3 linked regions of the Homo sapiens genome follow. The protein of the gene in region 1 interacts with the protein of each later gene in a pairwise test. Each region holds a gene or a part of one and is shown in the gene's direction. Other genes may lie near its edges.

What was found. Proteins that work in one complex are often made in the same cells at the same time.
Region 2: the proteins of NRF1 (region 1) and HHIPL1 interact in binary tests that used the Homo sapiens proteins (3 or more experiments, as listed by UniProt).
Region 3: the proteins of NRF1 (region 1) and COL10A1 interact in binary tests that used the Homo sapiens proteins (3 or more experiments, as listed by UniProt).

Annotation. Positions count from the first base shown.
Region 1 is NC_000007.14:129,606,972-129,615,319, forward strand, and holds the start of NRF1 (nuclear respiratory factor 1), read left to right. Parts: upstream 1-4,748; 5' UTR 4,749-4,853; intron 4,854-8,348. UniProt on the Homo sapiens protein: Transcription factor that activates the expression of the EIF2S1 (EIF2-alpha) gene. Links the transcriptional modulation of key metabolic genes to cellular growth and development.
Region 2 is NC_000014.9:99,676,129-99,681,672, forward strand, and holds the end of HHIPL1 (HHIP-like protein 1 isoform a precursor), read left to right. Parts: 3' UTR 1-4,441; downstream 4,442-5,544.
Region 3 is NC_000006.12:116,122,530-116,130,114, reverse strand, and holds the start of COL10A1 (collagen alpha-1(X) chain precursor), read left to right. Parts: upstream 1-3,982; 5' UTR 3,983-4,062; intron 4,063-4,607; 5' UTR 4,608-4,622; coding exon 4,623-4,776; intron 4,777-7,585.

The DNA of each region.
Region 1 (8,348 bases):
AACACGTGGCTTTCCTGTTGTCACCAGTCACTCGGTCTGTCTGAAACCAAACACATCCTCTTTCTATTGAAATTCACTTCCCATTAGAAGACCGTCAACGACACTAACATCTCTTCAGCATTTAGTTCTTGAACACCTGGAATTACTTCTGACTTTTGCCCTCCTACTCCTTCACTATCTCATCAGTTATCAAGCAGTGTTGAATTTTTCTTTATCGCCTTTGTTGGCGTTCTTCTTTTCATTTCTTCCAGCCATCTCCAACCTGTTAGGGAGTTTAGGAAATTGTTCAAAGACTGATTAATAAGATGGTATGGAGAGGATGTTTGGTTGGGGATGTGGGAATGTCTGAATCCTGTCTTGGCCAGCCATCTCTACTCATCAGGAGTGTGGGGAGTACATGTGCAATGACACACCAGGGAAAGGAACACTTTATTATTAGCTGGGTATGAACCACAATGCAGAAGTCAGGAAAGATAGGCTGGATTCTGGTCATCTCTGTCTATCCTCCCCACATCAATGCCCAAATTTGAGTCTTGGAACTTTTCTTCCGAGTGGGATAGAGGCACACTAACCAGAAAAAGTAGAGAGAAAGACAAATCCACAGCCTCTTTGCCCCAAGCCCGGGGCCTTGCTAAGACTTTTTCTGTGGGCCATAGCCTTAGGGCCTGGCTACCTTGTGGGAGAGGGAAAGAGAACAAGCTGGCTGGGCTGCCTCTGAGAAAGGCAAGGGCAGCCCTTGTTACCACTCAGAGTATGTTGAAGAACGGGAAAGACGCAGCACTTTCTGTTGAACGTGTTATCTTTTAAGGGCTCCATCCCAAGAAAATGTTATTCCATATTCTCCAATTTTAGTAAGATTTTCTTCCTTTGTGTGTGTTTGGTGGTGGGGAGATGAAATTTCTTCACCATCCTACCTCCACCTTGGGGGAAGGAAGAGGGTGGGGAGGGAGAAGCCTTGAGCGCCCTCTAGAGACCAGAAGCCCAACTCACTCCCTGGTGAATCTACACTCCTATGACCTTAGTGCTTAGCTCAAAATTGTCAACTGTCTATTGCCTACTAAGAACCAGTTCCTTGGCAGGCATGGTGGCTCAGGCCTGTAATCCCAGCACTTTGGGAGGCCGAGGTGGGTGGGTCACCTGAGGTCAGGGGTTCGAGACCAGCCTGGGCAACATGGTGAAACCCCGTCTCTACTAAAAACACAAAATTAGCCGGGCGTGGTGGCGCATGCCTGTAGTCCCAGCTATTTGAGAGGCTGAGGCAGGAGAATCGCTTGAACCCGGGAGGCGGAGGTTGCAGTGAGCCAAGATCGCACCATTGCACTCCAACCTGGGCAACAAGAGCGAAACCTCATCTCAAAAAAAAAACAAAAAAACACAATTTCTAAGGAGGCCATTAGAACCCTCTACAGTCTGGCTCAAGGCACCTTTTTTGGTCATTAGAATGACTTTAGGATAGTAGCAGATAGGGAAAGCACAGAAAAATGAATGCCAAATTTAATCATCCAGCGAACAGACTGGCTGGATCTAATCAAGAGGGGAAGGAACCTGGGTGAGGTTACCAGAATTTCACCTACTTCATAACCAAATCAACAGATCCAACAAGAATTAAATAAGGCATCACGGGAATCTAATCTGTAGGGAAGGGTGTGGGGAGACCCTTGTGGAAACAGCATCTATGTGAAAGGGACTTGATGTGTTCACAGTGGTAGCAGAAGAATCTCTGTGTCTTGACTCTTAGCCAAAAATCTCCAGCCAAAACACAGCCTCCCCTGTTCTCCTGCAAAGGTAAGCCCAGTCCGTTTGGGGCAGTAACCTCAGTTTGCTCAGAATGGTAAATGTCATTTAATCCTAAGAAGGTTCTGCATTAAAGATGAGGATAGTAAAATAAATCAGATCTGCAGTATTCATACTTTTGTGTTAACCTTGGTAATATTTTGTTTAATTTTGTATTTTCAATGTTTGTAAGATTTAGTATTTATCATATTAGAGAATCTGACAAGTTTCACGAAACAAGAGCCTTACTAAGTTTGATGTTCTCTGCCATTTTCTATTTCTTTAATGAAATGTTGGTAATGACCCACTAAGTTACTTATGTGTTTCATCAGTGGGTACTGGCCTGAGACCCTGATAATGGTTAAAAGTACAACTCTGAGGTCAGGCTGATGACTTTCAGATCTAGCTTATTGTCTGGGTTTGGGCAAGTAACCCCTATATGTCCTTGTTTCTTCATCTGTAAAATGGGATAATATTAGTAACTACCCAGGCCGGGCACAGTTGCACACCTGTAATCCCTGCACTTTAGGAGGCTAAGGTAGAACGGCTTGAGCCCAGGAGTTGGAGACCAGCCTGGGCAACAGGCATCTGCCTGTGGTCCCAGCTACTCAGGAGGCTGAGATGGGAGGATTGCTTGAGCCCAGGATGAGACTGCAGTGAGCTGTGTTTGCGCCACTGTATTCCAGTCTGGGAGATACAGTGAGACCCTGTCTCAAAAGTTAAAAAAAAGGTAGTACCTACCTTGTGGGCTCTACTTGATAATTAAATGAGAAAGAAGATAATGTGCATAAAGGCTTCCACTAGGGCCTGACGCATCGTGAGCGCTCAATAAACGTGGGGAGTACTGGGTGTGATGACAAAGGGTCTAATGCACCCAATCTTGGGAGATGAAAAAATGCTGCCTGGAGGCGATGGTATTAATGTTGGGATCTGAAAGAATGGTAAGAATTATTCAGGTGAGGATTCAAGTAAGTGCATAGATGGTGTAGAGAGAAATGAAGTTATGGGCAAAGGGAACAGCCCTTGCAACAGTTGTGAGGTGGCACAATTTCCAGGCTTAAATGACCTGAGAGCTTCCCAGTTTTGAGTGTAGCCTGAGAAATATCTGTGGCAGATGAGGTCAGAGATGGCAACAGGGATGAGATCACCAATGGCCCTGTAGCCACCTCAAAGAATTTTAGACTTTATCCTACGTGTTAATCAGATCTTTTTAAGAGTCTTAAACAGGGAAAAAACATGATTTTCTTTCTTGAAAGACCATTCAAGCTGTAGTGGATTTGGAGAGGGCAATTTCGGTGGCAGGGAGACCAAGAGGAGTCTACCGCAGTGTCTCTAGGAGAGATGACAGTAGCCTGAACCAGAGTAAGAACTGACAGGGAACAACAGTTTTAAAAATCTAATTGGGGCTGGGTGCAGTGGCTCACGGCTGTAATCCCAGCACTTTGGGAGGTTAAGGCAGGCAGATCACTTGAGCCTAGGAGTTCGAGACCAGCCCGGGCCAACAAGATGAAACCTCATCTCTACTAAAAATACAAAAATTAGCCGGGCGTGGTGGTGGGGACCTGTAGTCCCAGCTACTGGGGAGGCTGAGGTGGGAGGATCCTTGAGCCCAGAGAGGTCGAGGCTGCAGTGAACAATGATTGCACCACTGCCCTCCAGCCTAGGTAATAGAGTGAGAATCTGTCTCACAAACAAACACATCTAATTTAACATGGGGACTCCAGAGACAGAGGAAAGAGTAATGGATCATTTCCAGGTTTCTGGCTTGAGCACTTGGGTGGCTAGTGTTGGCACTCTCCTAGAAAACACTGGAGAAAAAGACATTCAATTTTTGGATATGTTGAATTTTGAGGTTAATAGAATCTTGAAAATTAAAGCTTCCTGATTTTGTTAATCCGTTTTCTGACACCCTTTAGCAATTCTTCAATGCAATGCTTTTCACATTATTATATGCATAAGAATCACCAGGGGTGTGGAGATGGGGATGTGAAAATGCAGGTTCCTAGGCAAACAAGCCAAGATTCTGGATACCAACTGGGTCCCAGGACTCAAAACAATCAGCCTGAGTAATTCTGATGGAGGGAGTCTCCTGACGACACTAAAAAAACAACAAAAACGACCCCTCTGCCGGGCATGGTGTCCTGTAATACCAGCACTTTGGGAGGCTGAGTCGGGAGGATCGCTTGGGCCCAGGAGTTCGAGACCAGCCTAGGCAACATAGGGTGACCACCCACCCCCGTTTCTAAAAGTAAAAAAAGACCCCTCGTGTGTCTCCACCGTTAGGTTGTTTTCCCACTGTCCACCCCTCCCTACTTCTCAGGCACCTGCTTGGGGGCCCCTATTGCTTCGAATAAGCTCCGTGGGAGCCAGGACTTTGTCTTGCTAACAGGTGCATCTTCAGCGCACTCAGAACAATATCTGGCACAGCACGAGACACCTAGAAATGTTCGCCGAACGATCGAATGGCTGAATACATTCATATGTTGCTTTGTACAAAAACTTGCTTTCAAATATCTGGGAAGAGTTAGAGATAGGAAAGCAGAGGTCATTTCAAAGAGAGAGAGTGAGGATACCACCGGGAAGGCAGCGCCGAAAAAACCAGAGGGGAACCACTTGCCGATCCCCCAGGCACAGTCTGGAGGTCCCAATTCCCGCGGTAGGGGGGCGAGAGATGCCACTCGTCTGATCAGCAACCATTTTGGGCCCGCTTGCGCCGCTTCTCCGGGGCGTCCGCGTTGTGCTCATCCAGTTGCTTTTGAGGTTCCGGCCCCCTCCAAACCTCTGAAGCGCTCCGTGCACGCGACGCGGCGGCGGGGTAAGCTGGAGCCCTCGCCGCGAGCCCTCTCCGCTGCCTGCCCGCAGCACAGCCGCGCCGACCTCCTCATCATGGCGGCGGCCGGGCGGGGAAGCCGGGCCGTGCGTCGCGTGCGTGCCCTCTCCCTCCCCTCCCCCTCCTCGGCGGCGGCGGCGGCGGCAGAAGCGGCAGCGCTCGCCATTGCCGCTGGTGGCAGGAGGCTGCGAGGAGCCGGCGCGGTCGCAGTCTCCACGGCGCAGGCCCACGGTAGCGCAGCCGCTCTGAGGTGAGTGCCCTACCGCGCAATCTCCAGCTATTTCAGCCCCGGCGCAGCCGCAACACGCCGCCCGCCCGCCGGCCGGCCGGCCCGCCCCGCAGCCGGCACCCTGCCGCCCCCGGCTCTGGGCCTGGGCCCCCGCCGGATTCGGCCCGCCTCGGGCGGGGGGCCCCGGCCCGGCCCAGCCAAACCGCCACCCCGAGGATGCGCAGGCCGCACTAGGCCCCAGGCGTCCTGGCGGGCTCGGGAGGGAGGCGCTGCCCTCCCGAGAGCCCCAGGGTTCCGGCCTCCTCCGCCGCCTGGGGCTCTCGGGGCCGCGGCCTTCTCCCCGCCGTGGAACCCGGGGCCCGGCCTTCCCGCAGCTCGGGAGCGGGAGGCGCGGGAGAGTGCGCCGGGCCCGGGAGCGGGAGGTGGGCGGGCTGCGCGGGACCGGAGCCGCGGCTCTCGGCTCGCCCCCTCGGCCCTTCCCGGCTCTCGTACGCGGGCGGGCGGGCGGGCGGCGCGGTGGGGCCGGGCTGGGGCGCGGGAGCCGCTGTCTCCTGCGGGAGAGGAGGCTGGCTCTTTGGGCGACCTCCGAAGCTTCCCTCCTGCCGGGGTGGCGTGGGCTTGTTACCCAGGTAGACTGGGGGACGCTGGAATATGGCGCGTTGCCCACCTTCTTGCAAGTTAGGAGGTGGCCGGGGCGGCAGTTCGAGGAGGAGGGCGCAAAGTCCTTTTGTACGCAGAAATAAGGAGCGACATTGTGTTTTCTTCCCCAGCTGAGATGTGCCCGCGGAGGGGCCGCGGTTCTTCCTGTGCCTGGGGTGGTGGTCCCCTGGGTGAGGGAGAGGGGGAGTGGCACGCCCCTCCGAAGGAACAGAACCTTTTGCCACTGGAAAGACAGGGGCTCTGAGATGGCCGTGTGCATGGTATTTTCCCATATCCCCAGACCTTTTCGGGTTTGTCATTGAATGTTGTGCACTCCATCGTGCAATGATGTCTGCTGCCTCTCTCACCTGTTGTGTCGTGGCTGCTGGTCCCAAAGTTTCTGCAGTGTATTTGGCTGTGCCCACCAGAACTTGAAGTTGTTTAAAAATCTTAATACTTGGGGGGCTTCCAGTGATATCTGCTCCAACCAGTTGGAGGAGCTGTTGCCTGCTCTCCATTCTTCTTAAGCATTAGATTAGAATATATTAATTGCTTATTTTAGAGCTGGTGTCAATCGTGCTGATTTCTTTATGTGGTCAGAGCAAAATTCACATTTTTTTAAGTGTTCAGAGACTGCGTATTGAGAGACGCATAAGGAGAAAGGTAGTGTGAGTGAGCCTGTCAGCTTGGGCAGTGTTGGGCAGAGCTTTTGTCCCGGGACATCATCTGTGCTCACAGTGATCCTTTTTCCCATTCCATCTCAGCCTAGCCTTTTAAAAAATTATTTTTCCTTTGGGCTTGACCAGTAAGTAATTGGGAAAGGGGGGTGCTGGAGTCTTGGAGATGCTGTTTGTGTGTGTGTGTGTGTTTGATTCATTAGTATCCCGACTCCCTAAAATTGTATTTGACAGTTCTTGACAGGTTACCCCGTAAGACAGTGAAAATATGACTAGTTCTCTCCGTGCATCTGAGTGTAATTTCCTTATTTTATGAGTCCGAAAGCAGACATAATTATCACATGCAATGTAGAATATTTATTCTTAACTTGGATCCTAAATTGTGGGCAGAATTTTTTTGTGTCAAGGGGTTTTTTTTTCTTTTGATAGGACTTAGTGGCTTTCAACAGGGCCCATGACCAAAAAAAACAATAATCAGATTAAGAAAACTCTTTACGGCCGGGTGCGGTGGCTCACACCTGTAATCCCAGCACTTTGGGAGGCCGAGGCGGGGTGGATCACCTGAGGTCAGGAGTTCGAGACCAGCCTGGCCAACATGGTGAAAGCCCATCTCTGTTAAAAATACAAAAATTAGCTGGGCGTGGTGGCAGGCGCCAGTAATCCCAGCTGCTGGGAGGGGCGGGGGCGGGGGCTGCCGAGGCAAGAGAATCGCTTGAACCTGGGAGGCAGAAGTTGCAGTGAGCCGAGATGGAGATCGCGCCATTGCACTCCAGCCCGGGGGACAAGAGCGAGACTTCATCTAAAAAAACAAAAACAAAAACTCTACTTAATCTTTTGGCCCATCCTTATTTGAAGTCCTTTAATTTCCTCACACAGCCTCAAACTCGACATATAGGAGGGAAAATGACTTTTTGCTTAGTAGTCAGTGGTCATAGTCTCCTGTAACAAAGAAAAGTTCTTATCCCCAAGTCGGCAATTTTTGTGGAAATAGTTCTCTTTTTCTTTTTCTTTTCTTAGACGGAGTCTCACTCTGTCACCCAGGCTGGAGTGCAGTGGTGCGATCTCGGCTCACTGCAACATCTGCCTCCTGGGTTCAAGCGATTCTTCGGCCTCAGCCTCCCGAGTAGCTGGGATTACAGGCGTGGGCCACCATGCCCGGCTAATTTTTGTATTTTTAGTAGAGACGGGGTTTTGGCGTGTTGGCCAGGCTGGTCTCGAACTTCTGACCTAAGGTGATCTGCTGGGCTTGGCCTCCGAAAGTGCTGGGATTACAGGCATGAGCCAATGCGCCTGGCCCAATAATTTTCTTATAAAAATATGTATTTGTGTGTGTGTGTGTGTGTGTGTACATACATATATATAATTTTTTTTTTTAAGTTAGAGATGGGGATCTTGCTATGTTGCCTAAGCTGGCCTTGAACTCCTGGGCTCAAGGAATGCACCCACCTCAGCCTCCCCAGTAGCTGAGACTATAGGCAAGTGCCACCGTGCTGGCAGTGGCTTCATAACATGTTTCAAGGAAATTTAGCTCCTGTGTTAAGAGAAGGAGCTATAGAAGTAGAAGATAATGAGGGCCCTTGTCCAGATATAGAAGGTTTAAAGGAGAAAGGATTTCAGGTTTCCTTCTGAATTCCTGTGTATGTCGTTAGGACCCCAAATTGTAGGTTTTTTGTTTTATTAAACGATAATTATGCACTTGTCTAATTTTGTTAGGGAACCGAAGGCCAACTTCCCATGATTTAAATACCTGAATTTGCATTGCCTGCACACTGTAGGTTCAACCAAATCTCTGGGTTGTCTTTAGAAGCATTTTATGTAAATAATCACGAATGAGTGACTTGTTTTAAGGGAAATTTAAGCTCCTGTGGTCTGGGATTAAATTTTTATGCCTTTTCTTGTATGGAATAAGGCATTCAGTAAAGTTGAAGAATAATAACAATGAACAGTAATTACTGAAATTAAAATTTTTCCCTGAGTATTTGAAAAGGCATGCTGATTTTTTGGTTTCTGGAGGAACTATGAACTGTCAGTCTTTAGAAACAGTCTACAGTCCTACCTCAACAGGAAGTTAATGTATACATTCAGCTTCTGTCAGATGTCTTTAGACAAGCCTGTTGCTTCATGCTGAAGCAGGCTTATTCATTCACACAGTGCCACTGTGAAAAATTGAAGGGTGAGGGGAAACTCCCTGGGCTGTTGA
Region 2 (5,544 bases), on another chromosome or scaffold:
ACCCCCTGGCAGTCAGAGGCGCTGGAGAGAACCGGAAGGCATCCAGTGGGGAAGGGAAAGCCTTCTGGAAGGTGGGAGCAGGGTGAGCTGCAGGCCTGGGGCCCCACTGGAGGGGCAGGCTGCGTGGAGGAGCCAGCACCTGCTCAGGGAGGATGGCTGTGAGGACTGGATGACCTCCAAGGCCGTATGCTGGAGAAGCCACTCAGCAGCATACTCAGTCCTTGTGGGTGCTCCTGGGATGGGACCAGCCTCCTCCAACCCTGAGGCCTGATTCTCTCTTGCTCTTGGGGCAGAAGCCACCCACACTAGCTGGGCAGAGCTTTCACCCTGGCCCTCCAGTGAGTCGGTGGGCCTCCACTACTTTCAAAGCTGTGTTTGGGCCCTGGGGCCACCTCTGTCCTTTCCATCCCCATCCCTGCTCAGTGTAAACCCAGGAGACCTGATTCCTCCAGCCCTACCTCGGGGCTGACCAGGCTGGGGGTCCAGTGAAACTACTGACACTTTTTCACCCAGGGCTATGCCAATAATGTGGCTGTTTACACACCACTTTCCTGCCTCCTCTCTGACCTGCACCTGTGTGGGAGCCGGGGTGGGAACCAGGAGAAAGGGGTGAGGCCTCCCGCTTCCCACCTGCATCACAGGTGGAAGCTCCTTCACTCCAGGGATGCTCGGCCCTGGCTCTGTGCCAGGCCGCAGAGGGGCACTTAGTATGACTGCGCTCAGCCTCGGATGGGAGCACGGGTGGGGGGTGGGTAAGCAGATGAGTCACCAGGCAGTGAAGACAGGATGTGGCCCATGTCGGGGGTTGGAAGAGGTCTGGGTGGGGCACCCAAACCCAACCTATGGGGGGGCTTTGGGAGGGGGTGATGCTGTGCCAAGTTCTGGGAGCTGGCACCAGGGGTGGCTGGGCAGGCCTTGGGGCAGGCATGAGTCTGGCAGGGTCTCCTAGCTGCTAGTATAGGGTCTCCTAGCCACTAGTATAGGATCCTGGGCTGCAGCAGAAAGCTTTAGGTCACTGTCTTGGACTCCTCATACTCTGTGCTTTACAGAATGGGAAACTGAGGCACACAGAGGTTAGATATCTTAGGGCACCAAGCCAGGGAAGGGAGAAGTCAAGTTTGAATACAGCAGCTTAGTTTAGAGTCCCCGCACCCTAACCACTGCCCTCCCCAGCTACACTATGCCTGCAGAGAGCGGTGTGCTGGGGCTCCTGCCTGGTGTGGGAGTGCCAGCCTGGCTGGGAAGCAGCTGATGGAGATCCCTGGGGGCTCCTCTTGCCTGGCAGGTGCCCCCGCTGCTGGCCTCATGCTCCTCTCGGGCCTCCAGTGGCCCAGGGGAGGTTGAGTGGGCATCTTCCTGGGATGCAGGGGAGTTCTGAGCTCTGACGCCGGGCGTGTTAGGAGATAGCAGGCCGTTAATGACCATCCCAGCCGAATTCCTCACTGTGCAGATGAGGAAGTGAGCTCAGGGAGGCTGAGTGTCCCAGGCCTGTTGCCAGATGAGGCCACGCTGAGACTGGAGCCAGGGAAGGTGCAGCAAGCCTTGAGGCCCTCAAGAATGCAGCCGAGCCAGGGCCCTGCTTGCCTGGCCCCAGAAGCTGTTTTGCTCAGAGCTGGATTAGGAGGGTTGGCAAAGGGAGCTCTGGGTGCGGCCTCAGGCCCTCCAGTACTTCTCTGGGCAGTTCGGGCTTTGGCCTTCAGTCTTCCAGGCCAGGCGCTCTTCCTCCCCAGCCTCCAACTCATCACCTCTCAGGCCCCAAACCAGGCCTGGGCTAGGCTGCAGCCTGCCTCCTGGGGACTCACTCCACAGTCCCCAGGTCAGTGGTCCCCAACCTTTTTGGCATCATGGACTGGTTTCATGTAAGACAATTTTTCCATGGATGGGGGTTGGGGGGATGGTTTTGGGATGAAATGTCCCACCTCAGATCATCAGGCATTAGATTCTCATAAGGAGTTCACAGCCTAGATCCCTCGCATGCACAGTTCATAGTAGGTTTCATGTTCCTATGCGGATCTAATGCCACTGCTGATCTGGCAGGAGGCAGAGCTCAGGTGGGAATGCTTGCTCCCCACACTACCCTGCCCCACTGCCACTCACCTCCTGCTGTGTGGCCCGGTTCCTAACAGGCCACCCATCAGTACTGGTCCGTGGCCCAGGGTTTGGAGACCTCTGCCCTAGGTAGTAATAAGAGTGGACAGCTGTTATATGTAAATACTTGTTCCCCGATGCTGGAAAGAAATAGCACTAAAACATAAATTTAATTCTTTCAGCAAGGCAATTTTACTTTCTGCAGAAAGGGTGCTCATCGCAGATGGAACAATAGTGAGAGGACACCTGAACAAAGGAGGGAAGCAATTGTTAGCCCTTATGCAGTTTGTCCCTGCTACTGTGTCCTATGTCCATTGGCAGAAGCCAGACCGCACAATCTAAACTAAAACCCGATTGGCTGTTTAAAATTTTTCTAAATAGGTAAAAGTAATGGAAGGATAAAGGAAAAGAGGAAGTTGCTTACGAAAGGACTTAGAAAAGTAATAATATTCCCAAATAAGGAAGGGGTATAGGCTGTGAGCTGGGACATGCCTGTGAGCACGTCCAGCACAGATATCTTGGTTAAAGTATAAGGACATAGAACGTACTATGTGCCTGTGAGCACGTCTAACAGTTACATAGAATAGGGCTTGACAAAGAGTTATTAGCATAAAGCAAGGAGGTTTGAAGGAAGTTCGTCTTTAAAAGAAACCATTATTTCTAACACTTACGATTTATTCTTTAACAAGAAGGGAAACTTTCAAGAGGAACTTTTACTTTCTACAACAGCTGACCTCTGCTGAGCGCTTACTACATGCCAAGCACTGCTCTGAAAGTTTAACATACCATTCACTCATGTAATCCTCATATTAATGCACATTTACTCACGTGGAAGCCGAGTTCCAGGGCATTTGTCACTTACCAAATGTCACATAGCCAAAATTTGAATTTGAGCCCAGGTAGTCCAGCTCTGGGACCCTGCTGTGGGCCTTCCTGCTGGGCCACCTCAAGGGCATTGAAAGCCAGCCCCACCCCACTGGGACACAAGTTCAGAGAAGGGCAGAGCTGGCTGCCTGTCCAGTGCTTCTTTCACTCCACCACCTACAGCTGGCCGCTGAGGGAGCATTCACATGTGACTCTGTCCCCAGGGACTCCGATCTTGCCTTAAAGTCCTCCAGGGCCTCTGAGGATGGGGGCACAGCCTTCACCCTCACCCCCTCTAATCCAACCTCTAGTCAATAGCCAGGATCAGATTCTCAGAGAGGGGCTGCCCTGCCCAGTGCCACACAGCTTAGTGCTGGAGCCTCAGGGTCAATGCTGCAGGGGTGGCCCAGTGTCCAGGACTGTGTTCAAGACATCAGTCAGAGGTCACAACATCCCAGGCCCTAGACTGAGCCTAGGGGTCACCATGTTGATACCTTAGAAATGTTTGGGAGGTTCAAGGAAGCTGGAAACTGGGTTCCAGTCCTGGCTCTGTGCCTCTCTGAGTCTCATTGCAAAATAGAGGTCACCAGAAGGATTACTGGATGAAAAATGAGGTAGCATTGCAGACGTGCATGGCACGTACACTCTAGGTTGCTTCCTAGACAGAAAGCTCAGTTCGAGGCTGGTGGCATCCATGCTGGCAGCAGCCAACTGTCTGCGACAGAGTGAGGAGGGGCATGCCACGTGAAGGACCAGCATCAGAATGACATGGGAAGAAACTCTCACAATAGCAGAAGAAAGAGCTCCTTCAGCCTAACATGTAGAACTCAAGTCTTCTTGTCGCGCTTCTGTCCCCTCGCCCCTCCTCCCCCACTGAGAACTAGCTTTTACTGAGCAGTTATTACATGCCAGCTACCTCGGGTGTGTCAGCTCATTTAATCTTGACAACAGCTCCACGAGACACCCTCAATATCACTGTCCCTGTTTTCCAGATGAGGGGACAGATTCCTAGGGTGTTATGTAAGTGGTCCCCGGGGCTTTAGAGGCAGGTTTGCACCAAGGCCCATTCTCCCAGAGCCGGATCCTTCTCCTTCCCTGGGATACAGCACCTCCACCCTGCCAGGCCACCCATGTAAAGGCAGCCAATTCAGAGCCACCTCTTATGCCTGCATCTCCCCAACAATTCCTGCTGGGAAACCACTCCTCGTATGGTGTCATCTACACCAGTGGGTTTCAAGCTTGAGAAGAATCAAGTTCTACAGGGCTGCTTAAAACACAGGTTGCTGGGTCCTGTCTCTCAGAGTTTTTGACTCAGTCTTGGTTGAGAATTTTCAGTTCTAGAAGCTCCTGGGTAATGCTAATCCTCCTGTTCTAGGGGCCATAGTCATTGTCCATACTGGTGCTATCCAATAGAAACATAATGTGAGCCAAATAGGTAATTTAAAATCTGCTTGTAGCCATGTTAAAAAAGTAAAACAGGTAAAATTAATTTTAATAATATATTTTATTTAACCCAACATATTCAAAATATTATCATTTTAACAGGTACCTATATATAAATATCAATTTTTTTTTTTTTTGAGACAGGGTCTGGCTCTGTCACCCAGGCTGGAGTGCAGTGGTCCCATCACTGTTCACTGCAGCCTCAAACTCCCAGGCTCAAGTGATCCCTCCACCTCAGCCTCCTGAGTAGCTGAGACCACAGGCATATGCCACCATGCCTGGCCAGTTTTTTTGTTTGTTTGTTTGTTTTCATTTTTTGTAGAGAAGTGGTCTCCCTATGTTGCCCAGGCTGGTCTTGAGCTACTGTTCTCAAAAGATCTATTGCCTCCACCTCCCAAAGTGCTGGGATTACAGTTGTGAGCCACTGTGCCTGGTGACCTTTTTTTTCCATTCTTTTTTGGTATTAATCTATGATATCTGGTGTGTATCTTACACATAGCACATCTCAATTGGACTAGCCACATGTCAAGTACCAGAAAGCCACATGTGGCCAATGGCTGCCACATTGGATAGCTTACTCCAGACCCTCCAGTGAAGGAGCAGGTGGTTGGCCACGTGCTTCCAGGCAGCGCTGCCCACCCAGGAAAAGGGCTTTCAGCCCTGGGACCTGGAGCCTTGGTATGCAGCCTGTGTTCCCTTACCTGATCACAGGATAGCTGGGAGCATCAAATGAGGTGGTGATGGGACAGCTGTGGGCTTGGTGCCTAGGGAGAGGGGAGACTGTTGGCTCACAGATGGGAACGGCAACTGCTCTGGAAGTGCTGCTCCTGGGGTAAGCCATGGTCATGTTGAGCCAGAGATCACTGGTGCTGCCCGATGTGTCAGAGAAGACGTATGCCCACTCCTCTCCTTAGCCGTATTTGGAGAGGTTCACGCTGACCACTGCTCCCTGATGCTGCTCTACACCTGCTTTCTGTGGGGCTCCAGGCTGTGCCTGGAGCTGTTCAGGACCTGGCTCTTCCCTCAAGGAACTGTGACAGTAGGTAGTCAGGCAGACATGAGCAGGGCAGGAGAGGGCCCTCCCCCAACGAGGAATGTCAAGTGGCCATCAGATGATGGTCAGGCAGTTGATAAACTGCTTCTCTCAAA
Region 3 (7,585 bases), on another chromosome or scaffold:
ACAAATGATAAAATCAGAATATCATCATTTTATAACCTATAATAAAATATTGACTGTAGGCAATTACCAATGTCCAGTAACACCAAAGAGACACCAGCAATTAAGGGCTTCCTAACAGAAGTATATCATACCACTCTCTGTAAAGGGTTCTTGCCAAAAAATGTATTTGTGTGTGCTGTATCTGTGTGTGAGTGAATGTGTGTATCTCAAACCTGAAATCAGATGAAAACTCTAGATTTAACTACCAATCTCCACAGTAGCAAGTTAAGTGACAACAAATTCTAGATCACAGGAAATTGCATGAGACAGATGACACGGCTTTTCAACAAATAAACTGCAAGGGAGTAAAAAGTGACACAAGACACCTAGAGTAACAGGTTTAGTCCATTTTACACTACTATAACAGAATGCCACAGACGGGGTAATTTATGATGAACAGAGCTTTATTCGGCACACAGTTCTGAAGGCTAGGAAGTCCAAGAGGATGGCACCGGTATCTGGAGAGAGCGTTCATGCTGTAGTATCGCATGGCAGAAGGCAGAAGGGCAAAAGAGGGCAAAAGTGTGCAAGAGAGCAAAAGGGGGCCGAGCTTGCTTCTATATAAAGCCCACTCTCACAACAACTAACCCATTCCCACAATAACATTAATCCATTTATGAGGGCATAGTCCTCGCAACCTCATCACCTCTTAAAGATCCCACTTGCCAAAACTGTTACATTAAGAATTAAGTTTCCAACACATGAACTTTGGGGGATACATTCAAACCATGACAACAGGGATATATGAATCAACCTAATTTCAACAAACAATTTATCAATCAATAAAAAATATATGTGGATATGTATGTATGTGTTTCTATATAATATAGACATGTGTATACATATGTTTGTGTATATACATGTCTATATATGTATGTGAACTACAGGATTTGATGATATTAAGAAATGGCTGATTTTTTAATACGATGATGACATTGTTTTAAAGAAAAAAGACTCCTTCTCTTCTGGAAAAATATACCAAAATATTCACAGGTAAATTGGTACAATATATGGGATTTACTTCAAAATTTGAAGGAGTGGTGAATGAAAAGAGAATTGAGTGACAGCGAGTTGAGATCAGTTTGAATGACAGGCATATAGGCATTTATTGTAACTATTCTCACTACTATAAAAGACAAGTTTTCTGTAAAAAAGTTTAAAAAGCATATGAACACAAATAACAAAAACCAATGTAACTAATATTAACAAGGTGGTAATAGAACACTGATATCAGACTATACATTCTAACTTAGGAGGCCATCATGATCACCTGAGGAGCTTCATGAAAATATAGTCTTTGAACCACCACTATTTTAATGAACCTCAAAGGCTGAAGGAATTGTGCATTTCCCTCAGGACAGCAGGAGTGGGGAAAAGAGGCTGAGAACCACTGTGTAAACACTTTAAGGGTATAGAATATATATTATTCACCCAGTATTTATCTTAATGTCTAACACTTAAGAAGCACTTAAGAAACATAAGGTGAATTAATTAACGATCCACAGATGTACAAATGAATAGGCAAGCTTAATAGTAGCTAACTGCCAGATGTGAAAAAAATCATTATTCATATTTGATATTTAAAAAAATTACTCAGGTTATAGAGTTTAAAGAGTATGGCTCTCTGTTTTGAGTGGAATGGGTTTCCTTCATAAAGCCACAGACTAGTCACTTCAAACAGCTACAAGTAAACACCCAGAGTAAAAATAGTTTTAAATACACAATTGGGTGGGGTGTGGCTAGAAAATATTCTGATTCTACAATCTGTTTTGGACAAGACAGTGCTTCTTATGTGACTAACAAAGCAAACAGCAGTCAGATTCCTTGTGCTGAAATAAGTACACTATTTGCAAAAAGGGTTGAATGTCCAAGGCTTATTCAATAAGGACACCACATTTTCCAAAACTAAAGGGGAGTATAGAATGACAAATACCCACATATATTTACATATCCCTAAAAGAAGACATACAACCTCCTGGTATGGATTTTTTTGTGTCTCTAATAAGTACTAACTGGAGCCAAGTCTACCATCTGACCATGGAGAACAGCAGAATACCTCAAGCACAGGAATAATCTAATTTTAAAACTGGGAGGAGCTTAGAAACCACCTAGTCCAAACTTTTCATTGTGTTGATAAAAAACAGACACCCAGAGAGGTTAAAGTGAAAGGCTCTGAAAATTGTTGCAATAGCCACAGATGAACAAATGGTATACACAGGGGCATAGCACTATGTATTAAGAGCTGAGAATTAGTCTTCTGAACGTTCACGAGTGATAACTAACAGGGTATCAGTCTCAATTATAAGCAAATAGCAGTATGTGTGTGCATGTGTATCACCATATATACACACAAAATATTAAAATATATATTTTAATAATTCCTTTCAAAACAAATTCAACCTAGCATTCAAAAGCATCCATAAAGTTACCTCACCTACTTTTTCAAAATTGTGTCCAAATGGGCCATAAGCCAAAAGGCAGGTGTTTTCTCTCACTTATCTTTTGTAGTCTCCTACAGATGTAGCAGAGTACATATTATAATTACAAAAGCTATTCCATATATAATTTCCAAATGATGAATTATAAACTTTCCTATTTTGTTATTCTAAACTGCTATAAGAAACATATTTTATATGTATCTATGAGTATTATACAGAGATATATACAACAATGTAAATTTTTTTAATATGGCAATCAACAAAATGCTTACAAGCAAGAGGAGAGAGGCAATGAGATGCCTTATCCATTTACATTTCCATAAAGGGCTATACAAGGCTTTGTTTAAAATACAGAAAATTGCTTGAAGGGGAGAGAAAGGGAAAAGAAAAAGGACAAATCTTTAGTTCATTCACTGGTCAAACTTTCAATTATTTCAATTATTGATTAGTCCTGAATCCATACTACTTTAATTCTGTGGAGGTAGAAAAATGATGTGTCTATGCCTGTGTATGGAATTGTCCTCCTCAACCAGTTCACCTGCATAGTCAATTTGATTTTGATTCAAAACGATGAAATTAAATAAGATGAAAAATTTGGACTCTCAACTTCCCACCTTTATTAGATTTTTTAGGATCCTAAAAACTGATTTTAAAGGCTTCCTAATATTGTTAAACAGAGTCTAACTACCAAAATTGACAACAATAGTGTTTACTTCCACCTTTGAGGGAAAGTGTTTCTAATTGGGATGATTCCTAACTGCAAGTTAAGCCAATAATATTTTTTTTAAGCTGAAAGCAAAGTTTGAAAATTTTTTTCTCCTGAAATAAACACAGCAATCTTATGTAAATTAACATAATATGAGATTATCAAATTAAGGGGTTTTTGCAAACTCTACTGCAACTCTAAAGTAAACCCAAATTTAAGCAAGAAAATCTGAAGTCATTTACTGAATATAGCGTAGTGTTGTGAATAAGGGATCTAAATCCTAAAAGCCTAAAAGTAATTAAGAATTGGGGTCAGCTATTTTCACAAAAATTTATGAATATTAATAGACACATTGATAACTTTATGTAATAACTCAATAATTTAGATGATGGTCTAAATCCAGTACCCCCTTCAAGGAATTTTATCCGCTTTTATGTACTACCACATATTATATAATATCAACCAATTAACATAAGAATGTGCTTTTCAAAAATAAAAAGGGGGTATCATCATTCCACCGTGAACCAGCCTGAACACTAGAGTATTAATTAATAAAATAGAATCACAGACAAAGACGGTCCTTGGTTAAAACTATTAATATATATTTAAGACAATGGGTTTATTTTTAAATAAGAAAACAAGGAAAAGGAGAGCCCAGCCCGATCTTGTGTGCCTACCCAATAGAACTTTCCACCATAATTAGTGCTTACCAACTTTGAGGGGAGGAGCTTAAGCTCAGGGTAACCTCATGTAGTAAGGGAAAAACAGTATAAATACCACTGAACAGCTCTTGAGAGGCACCTTCTGCACTGCTCATCTGGGCAGAGGAAGCTTCAGAAAGCTGCCAAGGCACCATCTCCAGGAACTCCCAGCACGCAGGTAAGCGTACGCTTACTGGTGGACTTCCATGTTAACTTGCTTGGAAAGAAACTTTAAAGATTTAAATACTTGAGTTTTCTCAAGTATTAGAAGTATTAAAGTGATTTAAAAAATGGGTTTCTACTAAAATGCACTCCAAAAGTTCTTTTTGCATCAGTCTGTGGATGATAGTCCCAATAAAACCATATTGTAAAAATTTGCCCTAATCCGAATTTCAGTGTATTTTGAAACTATTAGATATTTCAGGCTATGTCAAAGATCCTAGATTATTTAATACAGACATCCAATCCTAATTTCTGTTTCTTTTCCTTTAGGTAAATCATTTTATTTTCACTTGATTACCTGAGTATAGCTTCCAAAAATAACTAAGACATATATTCACATAACTAAAAAATGATCTCTCATTTATTTATGGCACATATTAAAAATATATAGGATAGGTTAAAAAAGTAGATAACTGTATAAAGAACTCATCTGTGAAACATGAGAATAAAAAAATAGGTTAATAACAATGCTGTATAAAGTTATTCTTTTCTGTTTTTCAGAATCCATCTGAGAATATGCTGCCACAAATACCCTTTTTGCTGCTAGTATCCTTGAACTTGGTTCATGGAGTGTTTTACGCTGAACGATACCAAATGCCCACAGGCATAAAAGGCCCACTACCCAACACCAAGACACAGTTCTTCATTCCCTACACCATAAAGAGTAAAGGTAAATTGAATTGTATATTTTGTTCTATTAACAAGTTGCTTGTTGCTTTCTATAATCTTAATAATCTCTTTAACAAAATGCATTTAACTTTGGTGTTACTTTCCAACTTCTGAATTAGCCCAAATTATTACAACAAAGTGATCTGTGAAAAAAGTAGAACAAGAATATCCAATAAGTGTAGTAGAAAGGATATACTTGAAAATATAGTTGAAAGATATACCTGCAAAAAATCAGAACTTTTGTGTGTACAAATTTTTTTCTCAGATGCTGCTTTTGCACAAATAACTGCATGTAATCCAGAAATCTTGATCTAATCAAAACTAATCAAGTTTAAAAATTTTAAGCTAAAAATAACTGCCAATTGTATAAAGAAGGTAGCTGGTTTATTTAGCTAAATATTAAACATTTACTTTTAAAACTAATTCAACTAGCCCACAAACAGATATAAAACCGAGTCTTATCAAAAAAATCTGATGGCCTCCCCCCCAACAATGAACAAATGTAATTATGAGAATTGCCAAGCAGGCAAATGAAACTGCAATTCTCATAATTACTTATACATTTTGAATATAGTTTAGCGGTAAAATGCAGAGACTTAACTGTAATGCATAAGCTGTGTGACCTGAGGTAAGTTACTTGTCCTCCCATGCCTTAGTTTCCTCATTTGTAAAATAAGGAGCAGCTATCTCAAGGGCTGCTGCGAAGTTTAAATGAATTAATACCTGTAAAGTGCTTTAAGTGTTGCTATTACTTCTACTACTACTTCTGTTACTCCTAGTTTTATTTCTACTACTTTTAGCTACTAATATAGCCTTCAATAAGTTAACTTTCTTCTTGAATCTGTTGCTTACCTGTCCAGTTTTCTTGGTTACTCTTTGAAGATTACTGAGATAATATATGTAAAGCACTAAGGTTCTCAAAGGAGGGCAACTTCTAGGCCTCATATTCACTAATTTTATTTAACAGCAACTGACACGACCGCCTATAAAATATCTACAGAATAATATAAACTGACTGTAGGCTTCAAACTCCCTTTCCATAATTTTTTAATTATATATTTTATACTGTAAATAAAGCTAAGGATATTTGTTATAAAGTTTAAATATTATGCTTTTGGGAACAACCATTTTGAGCAATGAAACTTATAGAATTGTCTTTTTAAGAAGAAAGATGGAATTTAAAATATTTCACAAAAGGAAACTTAATATTTGAAAATAAATGCACAGGTATACAACAGATACTTTTGAATGTCTCAAAATATAAATAAAAATTTTAAAATTTAAAGGCTAGTAAAGAAAAAAATAAAAGACAAAGCAACCTTCCGCTTTACTTGAAGCAACAAACACAATTTGAAATGCTATGACAAACAGCACTGGATTCAATAGTTTCCATGATCACAAAAATCAGACTTTTTAACACCTTAATAAGAGCATAACAAAGTCTTGAATTAAAAAGAAAATGCACTATTTTAGAAGGTTAAAAATACTTTGATCTTCTCTTAATATACACCATTATCTTGGCTACTTTTGCAGAACAAATGAAAATATCTTAACAAATGAAAAGTTCAGAAGCTGTATTTAAACTACTAAATCCACCTTAGTCTCTTTTTAGATAGACACTCAACTACACTATCATCCATTGGCAGACATTAATGCACCATAACAAACACAAAAGCCCACAGTCTATACAAGTAAGACATTAAGTTGAAACAGGAATTCAAAGAGTTATTACATAATTCCTAGGCATATCCATCCAACACAGGTTAAAAAAGAGTTCTGTCAAAACATACTAAATTATGCTGCAGAGGATTCCACAGCTGGTGGGCAGATGCACGTGCCACATTCTGACACAACCAATCACGATTTCAGTTTGTGGCATTTAAAAAACTTAATAGAAGGAAGTAGTCGTTTTACCTTGAGGATTGTGCCACCCTAATCTTGAATGAAGAAAATTTTTTCAGATGACAACCTACAAACAGGGGCTGTCCCCCAAGCATTCAATAGAAGCCAAATTCTTTCTCGCACTGAGAAGTTGAGACCCATTAGGACAACATTCCAAGTGACAAAGTTCGCCCTGTCACTGGAGTTCCAGTCTCGGATGACGCCCAATGCACTCATTTCCATTGACTTGTTTCTCCTTTTTAATAGTAAAACAGATTTCCAATCAGACTAAGACAATTATTTTTAGTGTGAACATGACCCTTATAATCAGATTCTAAAGCAAAGCTCAATCTAACATAGTTGGCATTTTAAAAAATCCACTATTTTATTCCTCCAACCCATTAAAAAATTCCTTATTTATTCCTCTATTTGCAATATATCAATATCCACTTATACATAATATAATCATGTATGTACACTACAATCAATGAAATATTTAATATACGGAAATCTTTTACATAAATTTTTCTCACAGTCTTTTTCCTGATGTCATTTTCTGAAAATCCATGGGGAAAGCTCTATGTATTTATATTAATCAATGTTTTCAAATTGAAATATAACTCTAATTAGTAAAAAAAAATCTAAATCTGAAACAATTATTTTCCTATTTCGGCATATCTATTTTAATGATTCGCTCTGCATTTATATACACCAAATGTTTTCCAAATCTCAGAAACATCTGTACCCTGTGCTTTCCCCATACTTGTGGCCCAGCCGCATTTTTCACATCACAGGCACTATGATTTTTAGTTTAAGTTTAGTTTATCAGGTCAAGTGAACTCACAGCTCTATGAAATCAAACACTATATATTTGTATTTAGGTAAGAACTTTAATACTATTTTATGTACCTCACCTATTATGTCTAATT